Regions from separate parts of the Homo sapiens genome. Here region 2 is linked to region 1. Evidence: fine-mapped expression QTL. Tissue or cell type: skeletal muscle. Region 1 holds a variant in brackets; the other region holds the start of a gene. All regions are shown on one strand. Distances are from middle to middle.

Region 1 (8,105 bases):
AGGAATTTCACGGCCATATGCAATCAAAATCTATCCTCAGGAGACAACTGTGATCTTTAGCACTGCAAAAATAAAACTTTAAATTTTAATTTTAAAAGAGTTGTAGATTAGAGATGGTCCATCAATTCACTCTCCAGAAACAGTATTGTGTACAGAACTTGTCATGTATCTCCAAAACTAATATCATCATCTAACCAACAACTTACAGATTATCTAGCTCTGAGCTAGAAAAACAATTCTCAGACTCTAGCTAACATTAATATTCACAGGAGTGAATCAATTCAAGAACTTCTAAAATATGTCTTCTTTTACTCTTTCCAAAACTGTTTCTACTTTGTTGTTTACCATAATTTGATTTCAATTCCTAAAGAATAAGTAGCGTATTTAAAAAAAAAAAAAAACCACATCAGTTTTCCAATCAATGTTTCGCCCCCATCTCCTGATGTATAAAATGCTCTTTAAATAAAACATGAATGGCTTACAGGTTTGGCGGCTCATGCTTGTAATCCCAGTGCTTTAGGAGCCTAAAGTGGGAGAACTGTTAGAGGCCAGGACTCCATGACTAGTCTGGGCAACATAGCAAGATCCTGTCTCTACAAACAATTAGAAAGTTAGCCAGGTGTGGTGGTGCACACCTGTAGTCCTAGCTACTTGGGAGGATGACTTGAGCCCAGAAGTTTGGGGCTACAGTGAGCTATGATAGCACCACTATACTCCAGCCTATATGACAGAGCAAGAACCTGTCTTAAACACACACACACACACACACACACACACACACACACACACACACACCCATGGCTTAAATATATTTTATACTCTTTGGCCCACACTACCACCAATAATCACCCAAATGAAGGCTATAAGCAATTAGACTACAGTAATGAGTTTTGTATTTTGGCTCATAATAAAAGACAGCATATAGTAACGTAAAATCCTAATATGGGAGAATATAGAGACTTAAAAAAAGGATTTAAGTCTTTAATCTTTAATCCATCTTGAATTAATTTTTGTATAAGGTGTAAGAAAGGGATCCAGTTTCAGCTTTCTACATATGGCTAGCCAGTTTTCCCAGCACCATTTATTAAATAGGGCATCCTTTCCCCATTGCTTGTTTTTCTCAGGTTTGTCAAAGATCAGATAGTTGTAGATATGCGGAGTTATTTCTGAGGGCTCTGTTCTGTTCCATTGATCTATATCTCTGTTTTGGTACCAGTACCATGCTGTTTTGGTTACTGTAGCCTTGTAGTATAGTTTGAAGTCAGGTAGCATGATGCCTCCAGCTTTGTTCTTTCGGCTTAGGATTGACTTGGCGATGCGGGCTCTTCTTTGGTTCCATATGAACTTTAAAGTAGTTTTTTCCAATTCTGTGAAGAAAGTCATTGGTAGCTTGATGAGGATGGCATTGAATCTATAAATTACCTTGGGCAGTATGGCCATTTTCACGATATGCATTCTTCCTACCCATGAGCATGGAATGTTTTTCCATTTATTTGTATCCTCTCTTATTTCCTTGAGCAGTGGTTTGTAGTTCTCCTTGAAGAGGTCCTTCACATCCCTTGTAAGTTGGATTCCTAGGTATTTTATTCTCTTTGACGCAATTGTGAATGGGAGTTTACTCATGATTTGGCTCTCTGTTTGTCTGTTATTGGTGTATAAGAATGCTTGTGATTTTTGTACATTGATTTTGTATCCTGAGACTTTGCTGAAGTTGCTTATCAGCTTAAGGAGATTTTGGGCTGACACAATGGGGTTTTCTAGATATACAATCATGTCATCTGCAAACAGGGACAATTTGACTTCCTCTTTTCCTAATTGAATATCCTTTATTTCTTTCTCCTGCCGAATTGCCCTGGCCAGAACTTCCAACACTATGTTGAACAGGAGTGGTGAGAGAGGGCATCCCTGTCTTGTGCCAGTGTTCAAAGTGAATACTTCCAGTTTTTGCCCATTCAGTATGACATTGGCTGTGGGTTCATAAATAGCTCTTATTATTTTGAGATACGTTCAATCGGTATAGTTTATTGAGTGTTTTTAGCCTAAAGGGGTGTAGAATTTTATTGGAGACCTTTTCTGCATCTATTGAGATAATCATGTGGTTTTTATCATTGGTTCTGTTTATGTGATGGATTATGTTTATTGATTTGTGTATGTTGAACCAGGCTTGCATCCCAGGGATGAAGCCGACTTGATCATGGTGGATAAGCTTTTTGACGTGCTGCTGGATTCGTTTTGCCAGTATTTTACTGAGGATTTTCACATCGATGTTCATCAGGTATATTGGCCTAAAATTTTCTCTTTTTGTTGTGTCTCTGCCAGGTTTTGGTATCAGGATGATGCTGGCCTCATAAAATGAGTTAGGGAGGAGTCACTCTTTTTCAGTTTTTTGGAATAGTTTGTAGAAGGAATGGTACCAGCTCCTCTTTGTACCCCTGATAGAATTTGGCTGTGAATCTTTCTGGTCCTGGGCTTTTATTGGTTGGTAGGCTATTAATTACTGTCTCCATTTCAGAACTTGTTATTGGCCTCTTCAGGGATTCGACTTCTTCCTGGTTTAGTCTTGGGAGGGTGTATGTGTCCAGAAATTTATCCATTTCTTCTAGATTTTCTAGTTTATTTGCATAGAGGTGTTTGTAGTATTCTCTGATGGTAGTTTGTATTTCTGTGGGATCGGTGGTGATATCCCCTTTATCATTTTTTATTGCGTCTATTTGATTCTTCTCTCTTTTCTTCTTTATTAGTCTTGCTAGCAGTCTATCAATTTTGTTGATCTTTTCAAAAAACCAGCTCCTGGATTCATTAATTTTTTGAAGGGTTTTTTGTGTCTCTATTTCCTTCAGTTCTGCTCTGATTTGGGTTATTTCTTGCCTTCTGCTAGCTTTTGAATGTGTTTGCTCTTGCTTTTCTAGTTCTTTTAATTGTGATGTTAGGGTGTCAATTTTGGATCTTTCCTGCTTTCTCTTGTGGGCATTTAGTGCACAAATTTCCCACTACACATTGCTTTTAATGTATCCCAGAGATTCTGGTATGTTGTGTCTTTGTTCTCTCTGGTTTCAAAGAACATCTTTATTTCTGCCTTCATTTCATTATGTACCCAGTAGTCATCATAAAAAATGATGAGTTCATGTCCTTTGTAGGGACATGGATGAAATTGGAAATCATCATTCTCAGTAAACTATCGCAAGGACAAAAAATCAAACACCACATACATGTTCTCACTCATAGATGGGAATTGAACAATGAGAACACATGGACACAGGAAGGGGAACATCACACTCTGGGGACTGTGGTGGGGTGGGGGGAGGGGGGAGGGATAGCATTGGGAGATATACCTAATGCTAGATGACCAGTTAGTGGGTGCAGCGCACCAGCATGGCACATGTATACATATGTAACTAACCTGCACATTGTGCACATGTACCCTAAAACTTAAAGTATAATAATAATAAAATTTTTTAAAAAAAGGATTTAAAAAGCAACTGCACGTAACCATAGCTAAATGATGACTATCGTTTATCTGTTTTTAAAAAAACAATTGATAGTAAAAATCTTTAAAATATACATGCTTGGCATACACTTCTGGGAAGATGAAATAAACATACTTTTCAGTATTTCTCCAAATAACACCTAGTGCATACCTAAAAACTCTGGAATATATATATATATATATATATCTCCAAAATAAAAAATATTCTGAAAGGCGGAAAGAAGAAGGCAGACCAACTAGGGAATGTGGGAGACACAAAATAACATAGTGGTGAATTCCCTAGTTTATCTTTTTGCCATATGTATCAGGCTATTTTAAAGTGAAGAAGCTGGAAACCTGGAAATACCAACAGGAACAGACAGAAAGAAACTCCAACAAAAACTTGCTCTCTCTAGCCAAAGAACCAGGAAAAGGTCATCCTATTAAGACAGAAAACTTTTAAACAATAACCACTACCCTGCTGTCAAACAGCAACCCCCTCTGCCCCCCACACCAAAAAACTGTGACCTAATCCCCACCCACACGAGTAAGGTCAATTGGAGATACTAGACTTTCACCACCATCAGGCAGTAACGAAGCACTCAAACCCACATTGGGGTAACGTAAGAGGTGGCTGACTGTTTAGGGACCCCAAAACCTTCTACTCCAGTAGGTAATAACAAGCTCCCACCACACAGTGGCAGTGGAGATTGCCTGGATTATCTGGACTTCCACCCCTAACCAGCATTAATAGGACTCCCTCCGTCAGCCTTCTCTGGTGGTATCAGAACTGCCCAATGGGACAGTTGGACTGAAAAAGTACATGAAGAAATAATGGCATACTAGTGAGGATGTGACTCAACCTCATTCATTGCTGGTACGAATGCAAAATGGTATAGTCACTTTAAAAGACACTGGCAGTTTCATACAAAACTAAACATAGCCTTACCATATGATCCAGCAATTACACACCTAGGTATTTACCCAAATGAGTTGAAAAGATGATGCCCATACAAAAAAAAAAAAAAAA[AC/C]TGCATACAAAAGCTTATACCATTTTTCTTCATAAATGCCAAGACTTGGAAGAAACTACGATGTCCTTCAACAGGTGAATGGATAAGCAAACTGTAGCACATCCATACAATGAAATATGATTCAGCAATAAAAAGAAATGAGCTACAAAGCCACAAAAACATGGGGAAAACATTAACTGCATATTGCTAAGTGAAAGAAATCAATCTGAAAGGCCACATACTGTATGACTCCACCTATATGATATTCTAGAAAAAGCAAAACCATAGAGACAGTAAAAAACACAGTTGTTGCCAAGGTTCCTAGGGGAAGTGGGAAAGGATGAACAGGTGGCACACAAGGACATTGTTAGGACAGTGAAACTATTCTGTATGGTACCGTAATGATAGCTACATGACATTGTGCATTTGGTAAAACCCTTAGGATGGTACAACACAAAGAGTAAACCCTAATGTCAATAACAAATAATATTAATAGTGTATCAATACTGGTTCATCCATTATAACAAATGTTCCACACTAATGCAGGATATTAATAATAGGAAAACTGTGGGGGGCGGGGAGGAAAACCCTGTACTTTCTGCACAATGTTTTTGGAAACCTAAAACTCTTTAAAAAAAAAAGTCTAATTTGAAATGTAAAATTTTAAAAATGACACAAAACTTTCCAAATTTGGAAAAAGACATAAACGTACACATTCAAGAAGCTGAATGAATCCCAAGCAGGAAGAAAACCAAGGAAATACACAAGTTACAACATAGTCACTTTGGAATACCATGGGCAAAGAAAAAAATTGACAAGAGAGAAACAACACCTTACCTATAGTGAAAAAAACCTATCTGAATTATCAGCAGATTTTTCATCAAAACCATAAAAGACAGCAGCACCAGTTACAATAGCCAAAAGCTGTTTACAACCCAGATGTCTATCAACTGATAAATAAATGAGCTGTTCATATTATTGAATGGTATATATCCAGCCAGGCATGGTGGCTCATGCCTGTAATCTCAGCACTTTGAGAGGCCAAGGCGGGCAAATCACCTGAGGTCAGGAGTTCAAGACCAGCTTTGCCAACATGGCGAAATCCTGTCTCTACTAAAACTACAAAAATTAGCTGGCCGTGGTGGTGGATGCCTGTAATCCTAGCTAATCAGGAGGCTGAGACAGGAGAATCGCTTGAACCCAGGAGGCAGAGTTTGCAGTGAGGCGAGATGGCGCCACTGCACTCCAGCCTGAAAGAGCGAGACTCCATATCAAAAATTAAAAAAAAAAAAAAAGAATGGTATATACTTGCAGTGAAATCTTATTCAGCCATAAAAAGGAACGTACATGAATGAACTCAGAAAACATTATGCTGAATGAAAGAAGGCAGATGCAAAAGACACCTATTATATAATTTCATTTACATGAAATATTCAGAATAGGCAAATACACAGAGACAGAAAGAAGTCATATGGTTGTCAGCAGCAGGAGGATGAAAAAGTATGGCCACTTAATGGGCTTGGAAGTTTCTGTTTGTGGAAATGAAAACATTTTGAAACATAATAATGGTGATGTTTGTAAAACATTATGCATGTACTAAATGTCACTCATGGTAAACGTTATGTGTATTTTACATTCTAGATTTTTGAAAAATAAGTATAAAATATTTAAAATACAAATTTCTATAATTTTCAATGAAAATATAGAAGACAGAAGGAAGTGGCACATTTGTCAAATGCTGAAAGAAAAGCACTGTCAATCTAGAATATTATATCTACCAAAAATACATTTCAGGAATGGAAGACAAATCAAAACATTTTCAGATGAAGGAAAACAAAAAGAATTTGTCATCAACAGAAATACCCTAAAAAAAAGTAGTGAATGAAAATTCTCTAAGCAGAAAGAAAATGATAAAACAAAAAACCATGGAACTACACTAAGAAAAAACAAAAAATGTAAGCAAACCCATGGGTAAATATAATAGACATTCATTTTTCTCTTGAATTTTCTTAATTAGGTTTGATGGTTGAAGCAAACATTTTTTTTTATAAAGAAAAAACTTCTCCTTGTGCGTGATTATTTGCCATTCACAGATATCTAGCAAAATGGCCTTTTTTTTTTAATACTTCAAGTTCTAGGGTACATGTGCACAACGTGCAGGTTTGTTACATATGTATACATGTGCCATGTTGGTGTGCTGCACCTGTTAACTCATCATTTGTATTAGGTATATCTCCCAATGCTATCCCTCCCCCATTCCCCCACCCCACGACAGGCCCTGGTGTGTGATGTTCCCCACCCTGTGTCCAAGTGTTCTCATGGTTCAATTCCCACCTATGAGTGAGAACATGCAGTGTTTGGTTTTCTGTCCTTGCAATAGTTTGCTCAGAGTGATGGTTTCCAGCTTCATCCATCTCCCTCCAAAGGACATGAACTCATCCTTTTTCATGGCTGCATAGTATTCCATGGTGTATATGTGCCACATTTTCTTAATCCAGTCTATCATTGATGGACATTTGGGTTGGTTACAAGTTTTTGCTATTGTGAATAGTGCTGCAATAAACATATGTGTGCATGTGTCTTTATAGCAGCATGATTTATAATCCTTTGGGTATATGTCCAGTAATGGGATGGCTGGGTCAAATGTTACTTCTAGTTCTAGACCCCTGAGGAATCTCCACACTGTCTTCCACAATGGTTGAACTAGTTTACAGTCCCACCAACAGTGTAAAAGTGCTCCTATTTCTCCACAACTTCTCCAATACCTGTTGTTTCCTGACTTTTTAATGATCGCCATTCTAACTGGTGTGTGATGGGATCTCATTGTGGTTTTGATTTGCATTTCTCTGATGGCCAGTGATGATGAGCATTTTTTCACGTGTCTGTTGGCTGCATAAATGTCTTCTTTTGAGAAGTGTCTGTTCATAGCCTTTGCCCACTTTTTGATGGGGTTGTTTGATTTTTTCTTGTAAATTTGTTTAAGTTCTTTGTAGATTCTGGATATTAGCCCTTTGTCAGATGGGTAGATTGTAAAACTGTTCTCCCATTCTGTAAGTTGCTTGTTCACTCTGATGGTAGTTTCTTTTGCTGTGCAGAAGCTCTTTAGTTTAATTAGATCCCATTTGTCTATTTTGGCTTTTGTTGCCACTGATTTTGTTGTTTTAATCATGAAGTCCTTGCCCATGCCTATATCCTGAATGGTATTGCCTAGGTTTTCTTCTAGGGTTCTTATGGTTTTAGGTCTAAGGTTTAAGTCTTCAATCCATCTTGAATTAATTCTTGTAAAAGGTGTAAGGAAGGGATCCAGTTTCAGCTTTCTATGTATGGCTAGCCAGTTTTCCGAGCACCATTTATTAAATAGGGAATTCTTTCCCCATTGCTTGTCTTTGTCAGGTTTGTCAAAGAGCAGATGGTTGTAGACGTGTGGTATTATTTCCGAGGGCTCTATTCTATTCCATTGGTCTATATCTCTGTTTTGGTCCCAGTACCATGCTGTGTTGGTTACTGTAGACTTGTAGTATAGTCTGAAATAAGGTAGCATGATGCCTCCAGCTTTGTTCTTTTGGCTGAGGATTGTCTGGGCAATGCGGGCTCCTTTTTGGTTCCATATAAACTTTAAAGTAGTTTTT
Region 2 (8,105 bases), 270 kb after region 1:
GTGCCATGGTCACTTCTGCCTGCCAAGAGGCCAAAAACCACAAGAGGGCTGGGCAGGATGTCAGGAGGGGAGAAAATTCGGGCCTCTGCTACACCCCCCACTTCAAACCGTGTGACTCACTTTGGGTCCCAATTTTCATGTATGTGATAAAGTTTGAAGGACTGGATCTTGGATGTGGTGGGGTAACTGATGTGTGACAAATCTGCAGGGCTGTGCCCAGTTAGAGGGAAAGCTGAAGGTACTAATTAACTAGTTAAGCCTGGGAGAGGGCACAAGCAAGAGGTCAGCAGGAGAAGCAGACACTGGAGGACCGCCTGGCCCATACACCCTCTCCAAGAAAGGCAGTCCTCCAGTTCCTGCCAAGAGGACAGCAATGAGGGCTTGGGGTACAATGGAGTAGAATGGCTGCACTGGCAGCAGAAGGTAGCCTTGGGAGGGAGCCACTGAGTATGACTGAGGCCAAGATGAACCAAGCAGGTGGTCAGGGGCTAAGGGAAAGCGGAAGAGGCCCAGCTCCCTGGGAGGGAGGGACCTGCTCCTCTAGGGCCTCCACAGAATAGCAACAGTTACAAGGACAGTGGCCACAGCTCTTCCTGTTTTATGAGTGTTTGCTGAGTTTCAGGCTTCCTGTTAAGCACTATCTTCCATCTTGGGCAACAGAGCCAAGAGGATGAGCATGAGACAAATGGGCAGAGATGGCCTGAACAAGGTCAAGTTATAAGATGAGGACAGGCCACCCTGGTTAACCTGGAGTACATCACCAGGGAGGCAGAAAGACACAGAGCCCACGACTGTTGCCTAGGCTGAGCTGGGGCAACTGCGGGGAGAGGGCTAGGCAGATGCAAGGAGAGGACTGTGATCCATCATGAGCTGGCTAAGCTCCCTGGGCCCAGGCCTGCCCATGTACTGAGGTCCCCAGGTCCTGGTCTTCCTGGGCAATGGGCAGAAGCTATAAGTGGGGAGATGTCACCTTCCTCCTCGTGGCCACAGCTACCACTCACAAGACAGGTAAAATAACTGTACCAGAGGTTGTGCTTAGCCCAATATTGGGAGATAGTAAATGCCTGCTTAGCTGGGTAAGGACTTCTAGGCTTGGTCACTAGTGATACTAAGAACAGGAAGGTCCTGGAGTGGGAGCCACATCTAATCCATGTCCCCTTTGAGGGCCAATTTAGGGCCAGATCCTGAAGGTCCCAAGCTAGTAGCCTTAGCCATGCTCACCCATAAAGGGGTACAGAGGGAAATCCACTCCAGGCCTGACCCAATTCCCAGTCCAGAACAAGGAGAGCACTGATGAGGTGCTGTGGAAGTTCTTGCAGTCAGAAGTTACCCCAAGTCACTCATCAGACATAGCATCTATGGGGAAGGGGTTAAGTCCAGTCTTACTTAAAGCTGGCACTGTGTGGGCCTACAAATTCTGGTCTCCCACCCCATCCCTGACTCACCCACAGCATCTGGACACCACAGGGGCTGGTCAGAGCTCAGTCTTGGCCCACAGGGTCAAAGCCTTGGTATTAAGAAGTGGGTCTCTGGCCTCAATCCCTCACCCACCCAGCCTGCCCTCAATCCTAGCACAGGTGGAAGGTTAAATAGTGCCCAGAGGGGGATGAAAACTCTCATTCCTCATCCTCTTACCCCCGTCTGCCCTCAGAAGAGCCACTTTTTCCCTAAAAGACTCAGAGAATCCCATTCCTGATACTCTGAAAAGCTCCCCGACCCCATTCGACTGCTGGGTTAGTGGGCAAAGAAGCTATACCTGGGGCCCAGCCCCACCAGCCCAACCCTGATCCTCTCCTAGACCCACCCGCATGTTCCCCTCCAAGGTACTCCGGGGAGACAACCTCCTCTGTTGGCCCTAGTGGTCCTGGGAAAGACACAGAGAGCTGGGTCCAGCTCCCTGCTCAGATGCTTTAAGACCTTGTGCCTTAAATAAGTCCTGTAACCTCTCCAGACCTGTATCAGGTCCTGTACCAAGTGCTTTAAATGTATAATCTCATTTCATGTTCACAACAACTCCTTATCTTTCCCCATGAATAGATGCAGAAACCTGGCTTCCAGAGTCTAGGATATCATCCAAGGTCATGAAACTGGCAAACACAGGATAGCTATTAGCCATATCTAGAGGACTCTGCACTTGGACTCATAATTAAAACTTGTGTAAAGGCCGGGCACGGTGGCTCACGCCTGTAATCCCAGCACTTTGGGAGGCCAAGGCAGGCAGATCACGAGGTCAAGAGATCGAGACCATCCTGGCCAACATGGTGAAACCCTGTCTCTACTAAAAATACAAAAAATTAGCTGGGCGTGGTGGCGCACGCCTGTAGTCCCAGCTACTCAGGAGGCTGAGGCAGTAAAATCGCTTGAACCTGGGAGGTGGAGGTTGCAGTGAGCTGAGATTGTGCCACTGCACTCCAGCCTGGCGACAGAGTGAGACTCTGCCTCAAAAAAAAAAAATCTTTTGTAAAATGAGAAGGGCCTTTGCTGTACTTCTAGCCTCCAGGAGCCACTATCCCTGCCATGCTCTACCCATCCATTGGCACAAGCTACAAATGAGTAAAGACCCCAGAGATGACAGATTCAAGGGATTCTGGGTATGGGGTGTGGCCCTAGGCCCAGAACTGTATGCCTTAAGCTGGAACCAGGTACCCGCCCCCAGCATCCCCCTGACCCCCACCATGCCACCTATATCAGCATGCCAGGTCTCCAGGGAGCCTATAGTCTGAGGTGGCTAGATGGCTGGCCCGCCCTCTGCCCAGGAACCAGGGGTGGGTTGGCCCAGGGCCTGTCCCTTTCAACACGGGACCAGCGACTCGTCAGGAGTCTATCAGCAGCCTCCTGAGGCTCCACAGGTGCAGTGGGCATCAGCCTTGTCCTCTGGCCAGCCCTGGGAGGCTCACACCACTCCAGCCCAGACAGGCAGGGGCCACAGGGAAGAAGCAGTCCCACCCAAGCCTTGGTGGGGTCTCAGCTTCCAGCAAAGGGAAACAGATCCATTCCAGTCAGAGGAGCTTCACATGGAAGGGGCAGCCAAGCTGAACAAGAGATCCCCTTTGGGCCTGAACACATGGGTCCAGCCAGAATCCCAGAGTCAGGAGTCACCCCTTCCCTGCTTCCGGATACAGCATCTCTAGCCATAGTGACTCCACCCCTTGCTCACTGGGACACTCAAAGCTTAGCTAGGCTACGCCTCAGTTTCCCCATCTGTGAAGTAGGGAGGACCACAAGCCTGACCTTACAGGACAGTATGACGATGAAACATGTTGCTGAGCATAGGAAGCTTAGCAGGGGCGCTAGACATAGCTTCACTCACAGGCTTCCGCTGTGGACCCTCCAGGATACCCCAGGCCTCAGTGAGGGCTCACTGACCTTCAGGGCACACTTCTGTCCAGTGCGCCGATGGAAGCACTCCAGCACTTTGCCGTTCACACCCAGGCCCAGCACCTGCTTGGACAACTGGTAGTCGTCGGTCACTGCGTACTTCTTGGGCTCCCGCCGCCCCCCCGGAGCACCGCCCAAGCCGGGTCCGCCGGGTGCAACTGGCGGGGGCACAGGGCCCCCCTGCTCCTCTGCTGTTTCACCATCCATGGCCCCCGCGGGGCGCTCAGAGGCGGCCCCAGCCTGGCGCTTCTAGTGGCACCTGGGGGAAAGGGGAAGAGTGAGTCCCGCCCAGACTTTTCCAACACACCCCAGCCTTGGAGCCTCTGAACTGGGCTGGGCTGCGAGCCCGGGGCAAGCTGGGAGTGCGGGACGAACGGCCTGAGAGTACAGACGTGCAGCAAGGGGCGGTGGTCGCGCGGCGGGGTACAAGCGAGCACCGCCCGGGCACGTGTCAAGAAGGGAAGGGGCCGGGCGCCTAATGGCCGCGAGGTCCCCGGAGGAGGCCGCAGAGGGGGCCCAGCGAGGGCGTACCTGGCGGCAACGCACCTTGCTGAGGTACCGGCGAGGGGCAGGAGAGGCGGTCGCGGGAGCTGGCGGCCGCAGAAATCCCAGGGCCGAGAGTCGCGCTGCCGGCGCCCACGTGACCTCCCCCCCCTCCCCACCCCCCCCTCCCCCACTCCCCCACTCCACCCCCCGCTCCCTGCGCGTCATCCCAACTTGGGGCCCCGCTAGGTCAGCCTTAAAGGGCCAGGCGGGCCCCGGCTGGGTCCCGCCCCCGAGCCGGAACAAAATAGGAGGCGTGGCTTCCCGAGGGGGCGGTTACTTCCTCGGTTTCCAGGGACACCCAGGGAGGCCCCTGTACTGGCAGTCCGCTACTGTGCGGGTCCCGGGTTTTACTCGCAACCTAGAACGTGACAGCGCAGGACGTCTTATTTCTCTTGAAAGCTCTCCTTGAGTCGGGTGTTTGCTCTGCACGCTGCCAGGTGGCCCTCCAGTATGGCTTGCTAGGCTTCCGACTTGCCTAGTGTTGGCCAACCCTCAGCGTACTCAACTTTTTAAACATGCCGAGGGAGGTGGCATCTTGTCGTTGTTGAATTCGCCACTCTTTAGTCTCTGGTGGCTCTGGGAGTCTCCAGCACTGGCGACTGCCCCCTTTTTGCAGCTCCCGCTTATGCCCTTGACTCGCTGCTTCCCTTTGGTATATACAGCATCCTGGGGACCAGAAATCCCGAGTTGCCATTTGATCAGATCCGCCAACATTTCACCTTATGGTTTGGGCTTTTGGCGTCGTGTTTAAAAAGTCTCTGTCTCCCATCCGAGTGACAGATATTCTCCATTAGCTTTCTAGTTTTGCCTTGCACATATAAGTCTCTGTTAAGCCCATCTTAGACTACCTTACGTATTTTGAGCCAGTTTTCCCAACACCGGCTGTTAAGCAACTCTCATTTCACAGATGAGGAAACTGGGACCCCTGGGGAGAAAACAACTTGTCTAGAGCCATAGGGAGGGTGGCTGTGGCTGTCTTCTGGGACAGATCTGAACTACTTGCGCACATCACATCACTCCCCCAATCCGGAAGCTGAGGGACCTGAGCGAGCTGGCTCACTTGGAACTGGGAAGGTGCGGCTCAGCGCAGGGGCTCTGCATGGGCCTCTGCTGTCATCTACAGGCCATCTACAGGACTGCAGGTACCAGGACCTCGGTTCCACTCAGAGGCGTCTTCCAGCCATCCTACTCTTGGCTCCGGAATTTAGGCCCAGTGAGCGCCTCCCCCTCAGCCCCTCTGGTTAACACACGCACACTCACGGACCCCTGGGCTGCATGTGCAGGCTCATCAGAGAAGTAGCTCTTGGAAAGATGATCTTCTGTCAATGAATGAGTGAATGAGTGACTGAAAGGGTGCTACAACTTATTAGTGGGTACCCACTGTGTGCAGATGTTGAGTGGAGATGGGGTTGGGGCTCTGCCCCTATTTCTTTCAGGCAACCTTCAAGCTAGCAGTGTTCAGTGAAGCAGGAGGCTCCAGACAATAGCCTCAGCTGGCCATAGTGAACACTTCTTGCAGACCAGATGCTGGGAATGTGCTCTCCCTGCAACCCCCTGACCTTACAGAGCCTAGAGGAGGTCACACTATCCCTTCTGCCCCACACTACAGACACACAGGACAGAAAAGCCCAGAGAGGTTAAGTGACCTGTCTGAGGTCAGCAGCTGTCATGACAGAGCCCCCATTCCAACTCCAAAGCACAACCTCAGGGCTGGGCTCTTATCCTCAAACCATGGCCTCCTCTCCTAGTCCTTTCTGGCTCCTCACACAGCCACATGTGCAAACATACTCTCACACATGTACACATGCAGTCACACCTTTACACATGTGCACACACATGCATATAACACGTATAAACACACATGCATATAACACACATGCACACAGATACACATGCACATGTGCACACACACATGCATTTATGCCCAGCTGGACCCAGGATTGATGTCCCTGAGCCCAACCTGAGAATCTGATTCAAGATCTCAGAGCCTCTTTGAAAGCCCTATGATCTGGAATCTTCTACTGCTGGGGGGAGCCAAAGAAGGCTCTCTGCTCTCTGAAGGCAACTAGTTTGAGCCTGGTGAACCTGAGGCTGAGCAAGATGTCATTCTGGTGAGCAGAAGGCTAGGCAGCTGAGGGTGGAGGCTGGCTCCTTGCCCCAGCCAAAGGCATCCCACTGAATGTTCTGTGAAGATGTCTTCTTTCTTTAAAATGGAATTAGATTATAATTGCTCTACAAATTTTATAATTGTATTTTTTAAGCTGGTCTCTTTTATTAAAATTTTAAGTTGCATAAGTAAAACTTCCTCATTGTAATTAATTCAAATTATACAGAAGTATGAAAAGTAAGGCAAAGGTGCTGCTTCTCCCCTCCCAGTCCCTATAACCAGTGTCCATGCTTCCACAGGCACACGCATTCCCCACATGGGTCCATCGGAGAGATGCCTTGAAACTACTCACTTAGCCCAGGAAAGTCAGAATATGTGGTTTCCCTTAGTGCTCATGTTCCAGCAACCACCTGCAGCATCCCCTCCACAATGATGGGAGGATTTGGCATGCAGGATGGCTAGGTCTGGTCAGGAGTGGGTTCATGATGGCAGACTCTGCCACACAGCCCTTCATGTAGCTGTGTGTCCAAGGGGACAGAGACTTTGGAATAGCTTAAAGTGAGGGGGGCTAAATCCTACACACACACACACACACACACACACACACACACACACACACTCTGTCCTTACTGGAGAGGGGAGGCTGTACATGGTGAGAGGATGGAGGCCAAATGAGCGAGACTTTTGGGAAGGCACTGCTGTGTATTCTTGTGATTCATCTTGTGATTGTTCTGGGTAGGGAGTGGCAGGGGAATCTTGCAGTAAGTTCAATCCCTGGGGTGCAGGAGAGGGATTATCCTAGAAGAGAAGAATCTATGGAAATTTGGCTAGTGAGGGCATGAGAGGGGGCACCGCTAGGTGGCAGTGTGGGCCCAGCAATCAGAGCCAGGGTTTCTAGGGAGCAGCCAGGGCAGGAGAATTAAGTACTAAGTTGGCCAGAGGGACCCAACTTAGTACTTGGGGCAGAACAGGGGCACATCACTGTTCCCAGCATGCAGGTGAGGTGCACAGTGCTGTCATATTCACACACACACAAAAATAGTTGGAAGGCCAAAACCCTTGGAACCCTTTGGTTTACACATAGACTGCATAATCACTGACCTGTAGGAGATACTTTCAAAGGGACACCCATGGTGCTCTGACATGGACAGGCCTGGGGGCAGAGAAGCTTCACTGAGGACCTTAAAGCTGGATGTCTAGGAGTCGGCAGATCACCAGCACCCATAGAGGAAGTAGGAGGAAGTGTGTAGGCTCCTGGCTTAAACCATTACTTGCCAGCTGGGAGATCTAAGTTATATTGTAACCTCTCCATGCCTCAGTTTTCTCACCTGTAAAGAGGAGATAATATGTGGTAGTTGTGACAATGACATGAGGCTGCAAATTGCTGAGAGTGCTTGACACATAGTAAGTGTTCAGTTGAATAGTCATGGTGAGGGGGAAGAAGTATAGTTTTGGTAGAGAGCTTGGGATTTGGCCCCATAAGAGACCCAAGTTCAAAATTGTAACTCTGTTGCCTGGCAGCGGCAAAGTCCTTTTGTCTTCATAGTAATGAGACAGTGGACAGTTCCTACTGGCAAGTCAGTGGTCCACACAGGGGCCGCATATCAGGCTATCCAGGTATCCCAGCCCTCAAAGTGGGTTATAAGGTATCCATCCCCCCTACCCCCATTCCAAGAAAGTGGCTTCTGGCCAACTCAGGAGGGGGCTGGCAGAGTTGCACTCATGAAGCCCGGCTTCCCTTCAGGAAAGCTACAGAGAAGTGACTGCCCTGAAATCTGAAACTTAACGTTTTTTCCCCAGTTTCACAGGGTTTTGCTTTCAGGTTTCTTTTGCCCTCTGCCATTCTGGGCAGAGCAAACTGAGCCCTGTCTTCCCTGGATGCTATCGTTCAGGCCCTTCAACAAGGCCAGGGGTCTGTCATCCCTGCCCAGGATCTCAGAGCTAGACTCCTTTCTGGGGACCCTGGGGGCACACACTGGGAGGGGGATGGGGGTGGGGAGTGGACCCTGCAACCTCTCCAAATCCCACAGTTCTTCTGGCCCAAGGGTTTGGAGGAGATTCACAGACCCTACAG

Alleles and levels. Positions count from the first base shown, and alleles are read on the strand shown. Sizes are in standard deviations (SD) of each study's normalised expression.
For the expression in skeletal muscle of the gene that starts at base 4,000 in region 2, allele C in region 1 goes with a higher level than allele AC (moderate effect, 0.58 SD a copy in FUSION).

The links. PIP is the estimated chance that this variant, and not a neighbour inherited with it, causes the effect.
Region 2: it holds the start of MAPKAPK3, and the variant in region 1 is fine-mapped to the expression of MAPKAPK3 in skeletal muscle (FUSION, PIP 0.95).

The regions. Positions count from the first base shown.
Region 1 is chr3:50,881,757-50,889,861 of GRCh38, reverse strand. All of the region lies in intron 3 of DOCK3 (dedicator of cytokinesis 3), which reads right to left. Among named protein-coding and RNA genes, the nearest start is that of MIR4787, 210 kb to the right of the region's middle. The variant AC/C (reference allele first, on the strand shown) is at 4,497.
Region 2 is chr3:50,613,046-50,621,150 of GRCh38, reverse strand. It overlaps MAPKAPK3 (MAPK activated protein kinase 3), which reads right to left and starts at 4,000. Exons shown (of 11, transcript NM_001243925.2): 1 at 3,910-4,000; 2 at 3,367-3,637. The coding sequence starts at 3,585. RefSeq lists enhancers at 2,374-3,326, 3,327-4,280, 5,148-5,237 and silencers at 3,547-3,696, 3,947-3,996, 4,007-4,056.